Regions from separate parts of the Homo sapiens genome. Here region 1 is linked to region 2. The links come from fine-mapping of genetic effects on gene expression. A gene starts in region 2. The other region holds a variant in brackets. All regions are shown on one strand. Distances are between the middles of the regions. Region 1 has its middle 4.6 kb from the start of PRSS57. Region 2 holds the start of FSTL3 (follistatin like 3).

The links. PIP is the estimated chance that this variant, and not a neighbour inherited with it, causes the effect. A credible set is the group of variants that fine-mapping cannot tell apart.
Region 1: its variant is the best candidate, but not a certain one, in a credible set for the expression of FSTL3 in whole blood (TOPMed, PIP 0.61).

What each region holds. Positions count from the first base shown.
Region 1 is chr19:697,400-702,762 of GRCh38, forward strand. No RefSeq gene overlaps it. Among named protein-coding and RNA genes, the nearest start is that of PRSS57, 4.6 kb to the left of the region's middle. The variant C/A (reference allele first, on the strand shown) is at 2,133.
Region 2 is chr19:673,221-678,583 of GRCh38, forward strand. FSTL3 (follistatin like 3) reads left to right here and starts at 3,172. Exons shown (of 5, transcript NM_005860.3): 1 at 3,172-3,306; 2 at 4,572-4,757. The coding sequence starts at 3,204.

The DNA of each region.
Region 1 (5,363 bases), 24 kb after region 2:
TCGGGCTCTGCGAGATGCGGGCGGCCTCTGGAAGCTAAAAAACGGCAGGAAACGAATTTTCTCCTGGAGCCTCCGGGAAAAGCCAGCCCTACCGATGCCCTGACGTTAGCCCAGAAGGGCCTGCAGGGGCTTCTGACCTCCAGCACTGCCAGAGAATAAATTGGTGCCATTTCGTTTATTATTATTATTATTATATTTTCTTGAGATGGAGTCTCGCTCTTTCGCCTAGGCCAGACTGCAGTGGTGCGATCTCGGCTCACTGCAAGCTCCGCCTCCTGGGTTCATGCCATTCTCCTTCCTCAGCCTCCCAAGTAGCTGGGACTACAGGTGCCCGCCACCACGCCCGGCTGATATTTTGTATTTTTAGTAGAGATGGGGTTTCACCACGTTAGCCAGGATGGTCTCAATCTCCTGACCTCGTGATCTGCCTGCCTCAGCCTTTCAAAGTGCTGGGATTACAGGTGTGAGCCACCGCGCCCAGCCTCATTTATTATGTATATATTTATTTTGAGACAGGGAGACAGGGTCTTGCTCTGCCGCCCACGCTGGAGTGCAGCAGTGCAATCAAAGCTCACTGCAGCCTCGACCTCCTAGGCTCAAGCCATCCTCCCACCTCAGCCTCCCAAGTAGCTGGGACCACAGGCACCTGCCACCACCAGGCCCGGCTCATTATTTCATTTTTTGTGGAGACGGGGTTTTGCCATGTTGCCCAGGCTGGTCTTGAACTCCTGGCCTCGAGCAATCCTCCAGCCTCGGCTTCCCGGAGTGCTGGGATTACAGGTGTGAGCCACCATGTCTGGCCCAAGTTGGTATCATTTTAAACCACTACGTTTCTGGGAATTCGTTACAGCAGCTGCAGGAAAGATTTTGGGAAATGGAAAGCTGTTTCCAGGGCCTGGGGACAGGTGGGACCCCAGCTCAGGGTCCGTGTACTTGGGGACCATTTCCTGCTCTGCTGTGGTCTACTGGACCGTCTGGCATCGCTGTGACCGCATGGGCCGTGCTCCATCAATATTGTTTTTTTGTGTGTGGGTGTTTTTTTTTTTTTTTTTAGATGGAGTCTCGATCTGTCGCCAGGCTGGAGTGCAGTGGCGTGATCTCAGCTCACTGCAACCTCAGTGTCCCGGGTTCAAGCGATTCTCCTGCCTCAGCCTCCCCAGTAGCTGGGACTACAGGCGTCTGCCCCCACGCCCGGCCAATTTTTTGTATTTTTAGTGGAGATGGGGTTTCACCATGTTGGCCAGGCTGGTCTTGAACTCCTGACCTCGTGATCCGCCCGCCTTGGCCTCCGAAAATGCTGGGATTACAGGCATGAGCCACTGCGCCCGGCCCTGTTTTTATCTTTTAGAGACAGGGTCTCCTTCTGTCGCCCAGGCTGGAGTGCAGTGGTTTGATCTCGGCTCACTGCATCCTCTGCCTCCTGAGTTCAAGCGATCCTACTGCCTTAGCCTCCCAAGTAGGTGGGATTACAGGTGCCTGCCACCACGCCCGGCTAATTTTTGTGTTTTTTTGTTTTGTTTTGTTTTATTTGTTTGGTAGAGATGGGTTTTGCCATATTGCCCAGGCTGGTCTCAAACTCCTGAGCTCAAGTGATCGGCCTGCCTCGGCCTCCCAAAGTGCTGGGATTACAGGCGTGAGCCATCGCACCCGGCTGTCCGTCAATATTGTCAAACGACTGGACAGCAGGCACTCTGGTCTCCACGGTCGTCGCGTCAGCACGAGTGGGTCCCCTGGACTTGCTCCTACCTCCCCTGCTGCCCTCCGTCGCGGAGCACTGAGGCAGAGACCTGGAAAACGTCCCCAGCTCCACGGGCGTTAGAAGGAGAATTGCCCGAAGCTGCAGGCGTGTGGAACTTTGTTCCCTCACGATGCTGTCCCTGTCCCGGTCGCTGATGGGGACACAGTAGGGAGAGGGTAAGCGCCTTAGCCCTGCCACACAGTGAGGAGCCAGGGGGCCGGGGCTGCTGCCTCAGAGGAGCTCCCACTGCCTCTCGGGACCGATTCTATCCAGAGCTGGGCCATTTCCTTCCCTTTTGGTGAACAGTTGTGAAATAAACAACCGTCCTCCAGCGTCTCAGAAAACCGAGCTCCTGGCAGCCCTGAGGAGGGGGCTGAGTGGGGGTCACTGTTCC[C/A]ACTTCCCAAACTGAGGCCCAGAGAGGGGAGCCGATTTGTCTGGGGCCACACAGCACAGGGTCTTGACCCATGAGCCGCTGGACTGCGATTCTCCTGGAGGGTCTCTCCATGGCAGATCTGAGCGGCTCTTCAGGAGCTCAGACACCAGCCACTGCAGGGAGTCAACAGCAATGGTGACAACAGCTTCCTTTATTGTATTTAATTTTACATTTTTATTTTATTTATTTTGTTTTTTTGAGACGGAGTCTCGCTCTGTCACCCAGGCTGCAGTGCAGTGGCACCATCTCAGCTCACTGCAAGCTCTGCCTCCCGGGTTCAAGTGATTCTCCTGTCTCAGCCTCCCGAGTAGCTGGGATTACAGGCGCCCACCACCACGCCCAGCTAATTTTTTGTATTTTTAGTAGAGATGGGGTTTCACCATGTTGGCCAGGCTGGTCTTGAACTTCTGATGGCAGGTGATCCACCCGCCTGGGCCTCCCAAAGTGATGGGATGACAGGCGTGAGCCACCGCGCCCGGCCCCTCCCCTGCGAAAAATTGTTTTTCAAGACGAGATGTTGCCTGGTGGCTGAGACTGCAATCACAGCTCACTGCAGCCTCTGCCTCCTGGCTCCGCCTTCCCTGTAGCTGGGACCACAGGCTCACAAAACCACCAGGGTAATTAAAAAAAAAAAAAAAGCTAGACACGGTGGCTCACGCCTGTCATCCCAGCACTTTGGGAGGCTGAGGCGGATGGATCACGAGGTCAGGAGATCGAGACCATCCTGGCTAACACGGTGAAACCCCATCTCTACTAAAAATACAAAAAATTAGCCGGGCACGGTGGCGGGCGTCTGTAGTCCCAGCTACTCGGGAGGCTGAGGCAGGAGAATGGCGAGAACCCGGGAGGCGGAGCTTGCAGTGAGCCGAGATCGCGCCACTGCACTCCAGCCTGGGCGACAGAGTGAGACTCCGTCTCAAGAAAAAAAAAAAAAGTTTTTTTGTAGAGATGGGGTCTCACTATGCCGCCCAGGCTGGCCTCAAACTGACCTCGACTGATCCTCCCACCTTGGCTTCCCAAAGTGCTGGTGTAATAGGCATGAGCCACTGAGCCTGGCCTCACTTTATTTTTATTTTTTTGAGACAGATGCTTTGTCACCCAGGCTGGAGTACAGTGGTGTGATCTCTGCTTACTGCAACCTCTGCCTCCCAGGTTGAAGCGATTCTCCTACCTCAGCCTCCCAAGTAGGTGGGACTACAGGTGTGTGCCACCACACCTGGCTAATTTGTTTTGTATTTTTAGTACGGACAGGATTTCACTGTGTTAGCCAGGATCGTCTCGATCTCCTGACCTTGTGATCTACCTGCCTCGGCCTCCCAAAGTGCTGGGATTACAGGCATGAGCTTCTGTGCCCAGCCTCACTTTATTTTTTAACCCCAATAAATGTATATCCACAGGACATTGCTTCTTCTTTTTTTTTTTTTTTTTTGTTGTTGTTGTTGAGAGGGAGTCTCGCTCTGTCACCCACGCTGGAGAGCAGTGGCGCGATCTTGGCTCTCAGCAACCTTTTCCTCCTGAGTTCAAGAGATTCTCCTACCTCAGTCTCCCAGGTAGCTGGGATTACAGGCATGCGCCACCACGCCCAGCTAATTTTTTTTTTTTTTTTGAGATGGAGTTTCGCTCTTGTTGCCCAGGCTGGAGTGCAGTGGTATGATCTCAGCTCACTGCAAACTCTGCCTCTCGGGTTCAAGCGATTCTCCTGCCTCAGCCTCCTGAGTGGCTGGAATTACAGGCGCCCACCACCACCCCCAGCTAATTTTGTATTTTTAGTAGAGATGGGGTTTCGCCATGTTGGTCAGGCTGGTCTTGAACTCCCAACCTCAGGTGATCTGCCTGCCTTGGCCTCTCAAAGTGCTAGGATTACAGGCGTTGCCAACGCGCCTGATCTTTTTTTGTATTTTTAGCAGAGACAGGTTTTGCCCTGTTAGCCAGGCTGCTCTCGAACTCCTGACCTCAGAGGATCCACCCGCCTCAGCCTCCCAGAATGTTAGGATTACAGGCGTGAGTCCCCGTGCCCGGACCTGCTTCCTATTTCTTGAAATGGAAGATAGCTGCCTTAAGAATACACATTGCACTGGCTGGACGCAGTGGCTTGCGCCTGTAATCCCAGCACTTTGGGAGACTGAGGCAGGCGGATCCCCTGAGGTCAAGAGTTCCAGACCAGCCTGGCTAACATGGCAAAACCCCATCTCTACTAAAAATACAAAACTTAGCTGGGTGCGGTGGTGTGTGCCTGTAATCCCAGCTACTCGGGAGGCTGAGGCAGGAGGATCACTTGAACCTGGGAGGAGGAGGTTACAGTGAGCCAAGATTGCACCGTTGCACTCCAGCCTGGGCGACAGAGTGAGACTCCATCTCAAAAAAAAAAAAAAAAAAAAAAAGAATACACATAGCACAACCCAACACTACCTGCCTTCCAGCCAGACTGGAGAGGGCTGGCTTGGCCGCTACTGGGGGTCCCTGAGCTGTCCAAAGGCCCTGCTCCCCGGAGCTCTCTGGCCTCAGTTTTCCCATCTAGGGAATGGGTTGCCCTGGGGCAATGCCGAGAGTGCTGATGAGAATTCAGCAAGGTTGGCTGGGCACAGTGGCTCACGCCTGTAATCCCAGGACTTTGGGAAGTTGAGGCAGGCGGGTCACCTGGGGTCAGGAGTTCGAGACCAGCCTGGCCAACATGGTGAAACCCCGTCTCTACTAAAAATGCAAAAATTAGCTGGGGGTGGTGGCGGGCACCTGTAATTCCAGCTACCCGGAAGGCTGAGGCAGGAGAACTGTTTGAACCCAGGAGATGCAGGTTGCAGTGAGCTGAGATCGCGCCACTGCACTCCAGCCTGGGTGACAAGAACGAGACTCCGTTGGAAAAAAAAAAAAACAGCAAGGTACTGGATGCGGCATGCTGGTGGGGACTGGGGCCCTGGCGCCCCTTGTAAAGCGCCTGTTTGCCCATCCGTAAGCTGGATCCTGCCCCGTCCTTCCCATGGAAGCCATCACAGTCAGAGAAGAGGGTAGAAGACAGGAAACCATCCATTCATTCACTCAACTCATTCCGTGAGCATTTATTGAGCACCTACTGTGTACAGACAGTGTTGTGGGCCTTGGGGACTCAGCAGTGAAGAAGACAGGCAAGTTCCTGCCCTTGTGGGGCTGACATTCAGCAGAGAGGCAGGAAGGAAACGCTGAACACAACATGTAAAT
Region 2 (5,363 bases):
GTCACTTCAACCTCTGCCTCCCAGGTTCAAGTGATTCTCCTGCCTCAGCCTCCCAAGTAGCTGGGATTACAGGTGCACAATACCAGGCCCACCTAATTTTTTTGTATTTTTAGTAGAGACGGGGTTTTACCATGTTGGCCAGGCTAGTCTCGAACTCCTGACTTCAAGTGATCCTCCTGCCTCGGCCTCCCAAAGTGCTGGGATTACAGGCGCACACCACCAGGCCCACCTAATTTTTTTGTATTTTTAGTAGAGACAGGGTTTTACCATGTTGGCCAGGCTAGTCTCGAACTCCTGACCTCAAGTGATCTGCCTGCCTCGGCCTCCTAATGTGTTGGAGGTTCACAGGTGTGAACCTAATGTGTTGGTGGTTCACAGGTGTGAACCACCGCGCCCGGCCAGGCATCTCCTCTTCTACGGACCCTTCCAGGACAGTGGGCCATCCGTATAACCCAGGATGAACCCCTGTGTGAAAGCCCTCAACTCAGTCCCATCTGCAGAGCCCCTTTGGCCAGGGAGGGTGGGACACCCACGGGTTCTAGGGATGAGGGCCCCATGGTCTCTGGGACCGCCGTTCTGCTGACCACCCCCCACTGCTCTCCCCCTCACTCACAGCACAAGCGTCTGTTTCCAGCGCACACCCCTGCCGCTCCGTCTGACGTTCGAGTCTCAACCTCAACGTCTCTTTCCTCTGGGAAGCCTTCCTCAGTCTCCCCCAGGCCCGGGTCAGGCCTGGGGCACCTTTGCCATCTGGGCATCCTCCGCCACAGAACAACACTGGATTGTCACTGTCTGTTTACCTGTCAGGATGTACCTGGAGGGAGACAGAAGCCTGGGGGGTGAGCAGAGGCCACGAGGAGCCACGGTGGGTGTCTGAGCCAGGGAGAAGTGTTATGGCAGCTGGGGTAGGAAGTGGGCCGCAGGGGCCAGGCTGCGGGCTGGAAGTCCTAGGATGAGCCTCGGGCCTGGATAGGGTGGGGAGAGGGGCAGAGCCGGGAGAGGGGAGGTCATCACTGGGGTCTCAGGAGGAGGCGGCGCTCTGGAAAGGGTCAGTGACCTGTTAGAGGTCACCCTGCACAGAGCCTCTGGGTTAGGGAAGACAGAGCCGGGAGCAGGAGGCCACTGGCAGCTGGCCTCGGTTTCCCCGGAGAGGGCCGGAACCCACGCCAGCCAGACAATGACCCTTTGATTCGCACAGCCCAGGCCGGAGTGGCCAAGCCACGGCGGGGTCAGGTCTTGGCCAAGGTCACACTGTCCAGCCCCCGCACATCCTCAGTGAGAACACAGGGTCCCATCCCTGCCCCACTCCCCAATCCCGGGAGAGTCCCGGGGGAATGCCAGAGGCCAAGGCCAGGTCGAGACGGCGGGGTGTCCCCCGTCAGTGAGAACACAGGGTCCTGTGCCTGCCCCACTCCCCAAGCCGGGGAGATTCCCGGGGGAAATGCCAGAGGCCAAGGCCAGGTCGAGACGGCGGGGTGTCCCCCCTCAGTGAGAACACAGGGTCCCGTCCCTGCCCTGCTCCCCAAGCCGGGGAGATTCCCGGGGGAAATGCCAGAGGCCAAGGCCAGGTCGAGACGGCGGGGTGTCCCCCCTCAGTGAGAATACAGGGTCCCGTCCCTGCCCTGCTCCCCAAGCCGGGGAGATTCCCGGGGGAAATGCCAGAGGCCAAGGCCAGGTCAAGACGGCGGGGTGTCCCCCCTCAGTGCCACTAAGGCAGAACTTGGCCCCTGGCCACTGGCTGCTGGGGGACACAGGCTGGGCAGCTAAGGTGGAGGAAAGGGTACAGGTGTGTCTTCTGTGGGCACAGATCTCACTCAGGCCAGAGAAGGGGCTGTGCCGTGGGGCTGCTGGACACGTCCGTTTCCACCTGCGGGGTGGGCAATGCCGGCACAGCGAGTGGCCAGACACAGGCATGCCCAGCAGACACCCAACCGCTCTCCACCACCTCAACCTTCTGTATTTTCCTGAAAGCATTTACCACTCCTTGAAGTTATAGATTAATTTGTCTCTGCATTTTGTTGTCCAAACCAGGAGCTCGGTGAGGGTGTGATGGGGTCTGCCTTGGTCACCGTGGCACCCCAGCACCCCGCAGGGTCCCTCTGGCCAAAAGAGATGTTCACTGATGCCCTAGAAGCAGGAACAGAGGGGCTCCCCTGCGCTCGCCAAGGGCGCCTGACAAATCTGGAGGCCCCCATGACAGAATCAGCTCCAGAGTAGGAAATGTGTCTGGCTGCACGAAAGCCCCCTCGGGCGCAGCGCCTCCAGGCCCACGCAGATGTCGCTGTCATACATTGTTGGAAACGCCTCTGCTGGAAACAGTGTTTGCTGAATCTTGGAGGGAGAGGAAAAAACCTAGTAAACATTCTTGTTGAGGTGATCTGGGGGAATGTCTGCAAAGGCTTGGAGGGCTGATGGGGCAGAGCTGCCCAGGGGCCCAGGACAAAGGCCAGGCGTGCGCGCGCACACACACACACACACACACACACACACGCAGTGGCCTCCCTGGGGGCCGTGGCTGGGCGAGGCCTGCTGTTGTCCGAGATGCTGGAAGGAGCTGTGTCTCTGGGTCTGTCCCGGCCGCACCCCGTTCTGTCCCACACCCAACCACTCCCCACCCACAGGCCGGCTCCAGCGGCCAGGTGGACGGGTGCGCGGCCCGCGCTGTGAGCAGGGAACCATATCCAGCTGAGGTTTTGGGTGTGTGGGGCGGGTCGGGAACAAGGAGGCCGGGTTGGGGGGCTCAGACCACACTTGGACCATGAAAGTGACCACATGCAAATCACAGAAACGGGATGCAGGGATCCACAGACGTGCTCCTCTTGGGTCCCCGTTACCTCACCGCCACCCCTGAAACTGAAGACCCCCAAACCCACTTTAATTCCTGGAGACGGCCCCTCGATCCACCCAAAAGGCTGCCACCACCTCGAACCCACACCCCTGTCCCGGTTCCGCCCTGGGTCCAGCCACATCTCCCCAAATGCATTCTCTGGCTCCGGAAGGGGACCCGGGCGCTCGCCCCCAACTGCCCCCCGCAGCGGCCGGGCCCGGCGCCTGCCCACCCCGCGCGGGACACGGCCTCGCCCCCGCCACTCCCGCGCCGCGCCCCGCCCCGCGCCCCGCCCCGCCCGCGGCCCGCGGGACCTTTATAGGGAGCGCCGGCCGCGCGCTGGGAAGTCGGTGCCGCTGCCGTCTCTGCGTTCGCCATGCGTCCCGGGGCGCCAGGGCCACTCTGGCCTCTGCCCTGGGGGGCCCTGGCTTGGGCCGTGGGCTTCGTGAGCTCCATGGGCTCGGGGAACCCCGCGCCCGGTGAGTGGGGCGGCCAGAGGGGCGGGCGGGGCGGGCCACCCACGTGGGGCTGCGCGGAATGCGGCCGGGGGGACGTCGGGGGGCGCGGCGGCGGCGGCGGGGGCGAGGGCGGTGTCCGGCGCAAGCTGGAGCCGGGAAGGTCTGAAGGAGGGTCACCAAGAGGTCAGCAGAGCAGAGGTTTCTAATCACAATGACCGCTGACATTTATTGAGCGCTTAGTGTCTACCTCTCCCCTCCCTGAACCTGTGCCATCCCGATAGTGCCGGAGCTCTCTTCATCTCCGTCTTCCAGATGGGGAAACTGAGGCTCAGGGTCACACAGCCTGTAGCAGGCAAAGCCAGGGTTCTAGCCGCGACCGTCCGGGTCGGTCCTGGTGCCGAGAGGTAGTGCTGGGTGTCGGGAGCCAGGCCCTCCAGCTGGGGCTGAGAGCTTTCCCGGGTCCTGGGTAGACGGGGCATGGAGTCTCACACCTGGGACTTGCCGGGAGGTGCCAGGCAGGAGACGGCCCCACTCCTGGCCTCAGTTTCCCCTCCTATGATGGGTGCCAAGGTGCTGCGTTCCACAAGCTGGTCCCTGGCAGTGTCTGTGAACCAGCAAGCGCTCTGGGATGGGGGCTGTGGCCGTTCCTGCCCCCAGGGACGGGGGAAGAAATGGGGGGCTCTCTGGCTCCCCACCCCCCATCCCTGCAGCCCCACCCCACCCCAGCCCTGCGCCAAAGGGAGAGCAGAGCCCCCTCCCCGAAGGCCACGTCCCTGGGGAGACAGTGAGCTCATGCAAGGGGAATGTTCCCAAGTTGGAGTGAGTAAGAGGCGGGCCAGGCGGTGGGGGGGCTGCCAGGCGCGGGGCTCCGCGTGCCCTCGCCCTCGGGTGCTGTCTAGACAGAGGGCAGAGGCGGGAGAAGCGGCTCCAGGGCCTGCTGACCCTGACATGCCCAGTGCCTGGTGTTTGGTGGTGTTTGAGGGGTTGGGCAGGGTGCCAGCCCCTGGCCTGGGGGCTTGGAGGGTACGGGAAGGGACCTCCTGGGGTGGGTGGGGGTTGGTGGTGAGGCTGTGGGGGGGGGCACGTGGAGCTCAGAGGGGAGGAGACATTTCCAGGGTTCTGGAGCCAGGGTGGGGACACCCATGTGGTTTTCTGCCCCTTCTTCCTGGGTGGGGGTAGATCATTCCGTGCGTAACTACTCAGCACCACCTGCATGCATCTGTGGGCGGGCCAGAAGCTGGGTGTCAGGAGTGGCCCAGGAGAGCACCCCGTTCCCCGGCCCGCAGGTGGTGTTTGCTGGCTCCAGCAGGGCCAGGAGGCCACCTGCAGCCTGGTGCTCCAGACTGATGTCACCCGGGCCGAGTGCTGTGCCTCCGGCAACATTGACACCGCCTGGTCCAACCTCACCCACCCGGGGAACAAGATCAACCTCCTCGGCTTCTTGGGCCTTGTCCACTGCCTTCCCTGCAAAGGTGAGACCTCAGGCCAGAAGCAGGGCAGACGTCTCAGCTCAGGACCAGCCACAAACAGTCATGGTGGTCGAGGGCCGAACGTCCAGGGACTGAGCCCGTCACAGGGGTATGTAGGAGGCTGCAGGGGGATCCCAGCCTCAGAGAGGGACTGGGGGGACTTCCCGGTTCCCAGGCTCCAGCCTCTTGCAGCTCAGGACTCAGGAAGAGACCACGTGGCTCCAGCCTTTGCTGGGGCTGAGCTCTCTGCCTGGGTGGCTCTTCCCACCTGGTCGATAAATGTCTGGCTTGCACCTAGCTCCTGGGAAGGTGGGTTTGCCATTCTGGCCTGTGACCCCAAATGTCCACACCAGGGACCTTCACTGCAGACTCCAGGGTCTGCGGTGGGGTTACAGCTGCATGTTTAACAAGCATTTGCCTCGGGACCCTGTTTTGAGAGGATGCCTCCCACATCAGACTAGGGGCTCTTGGTTGGCGAGTGGCACAGAACGAATGAATAAGATTCTCCGCACTGGAGGATGATGGTTTTTTTTTTTTTTTTTTTTTTTTTTCCTGAGATGGAGCCTCGCTCTGTCACCCAGGCTGGAGTGCAGTGGTGCGATTTTGGCT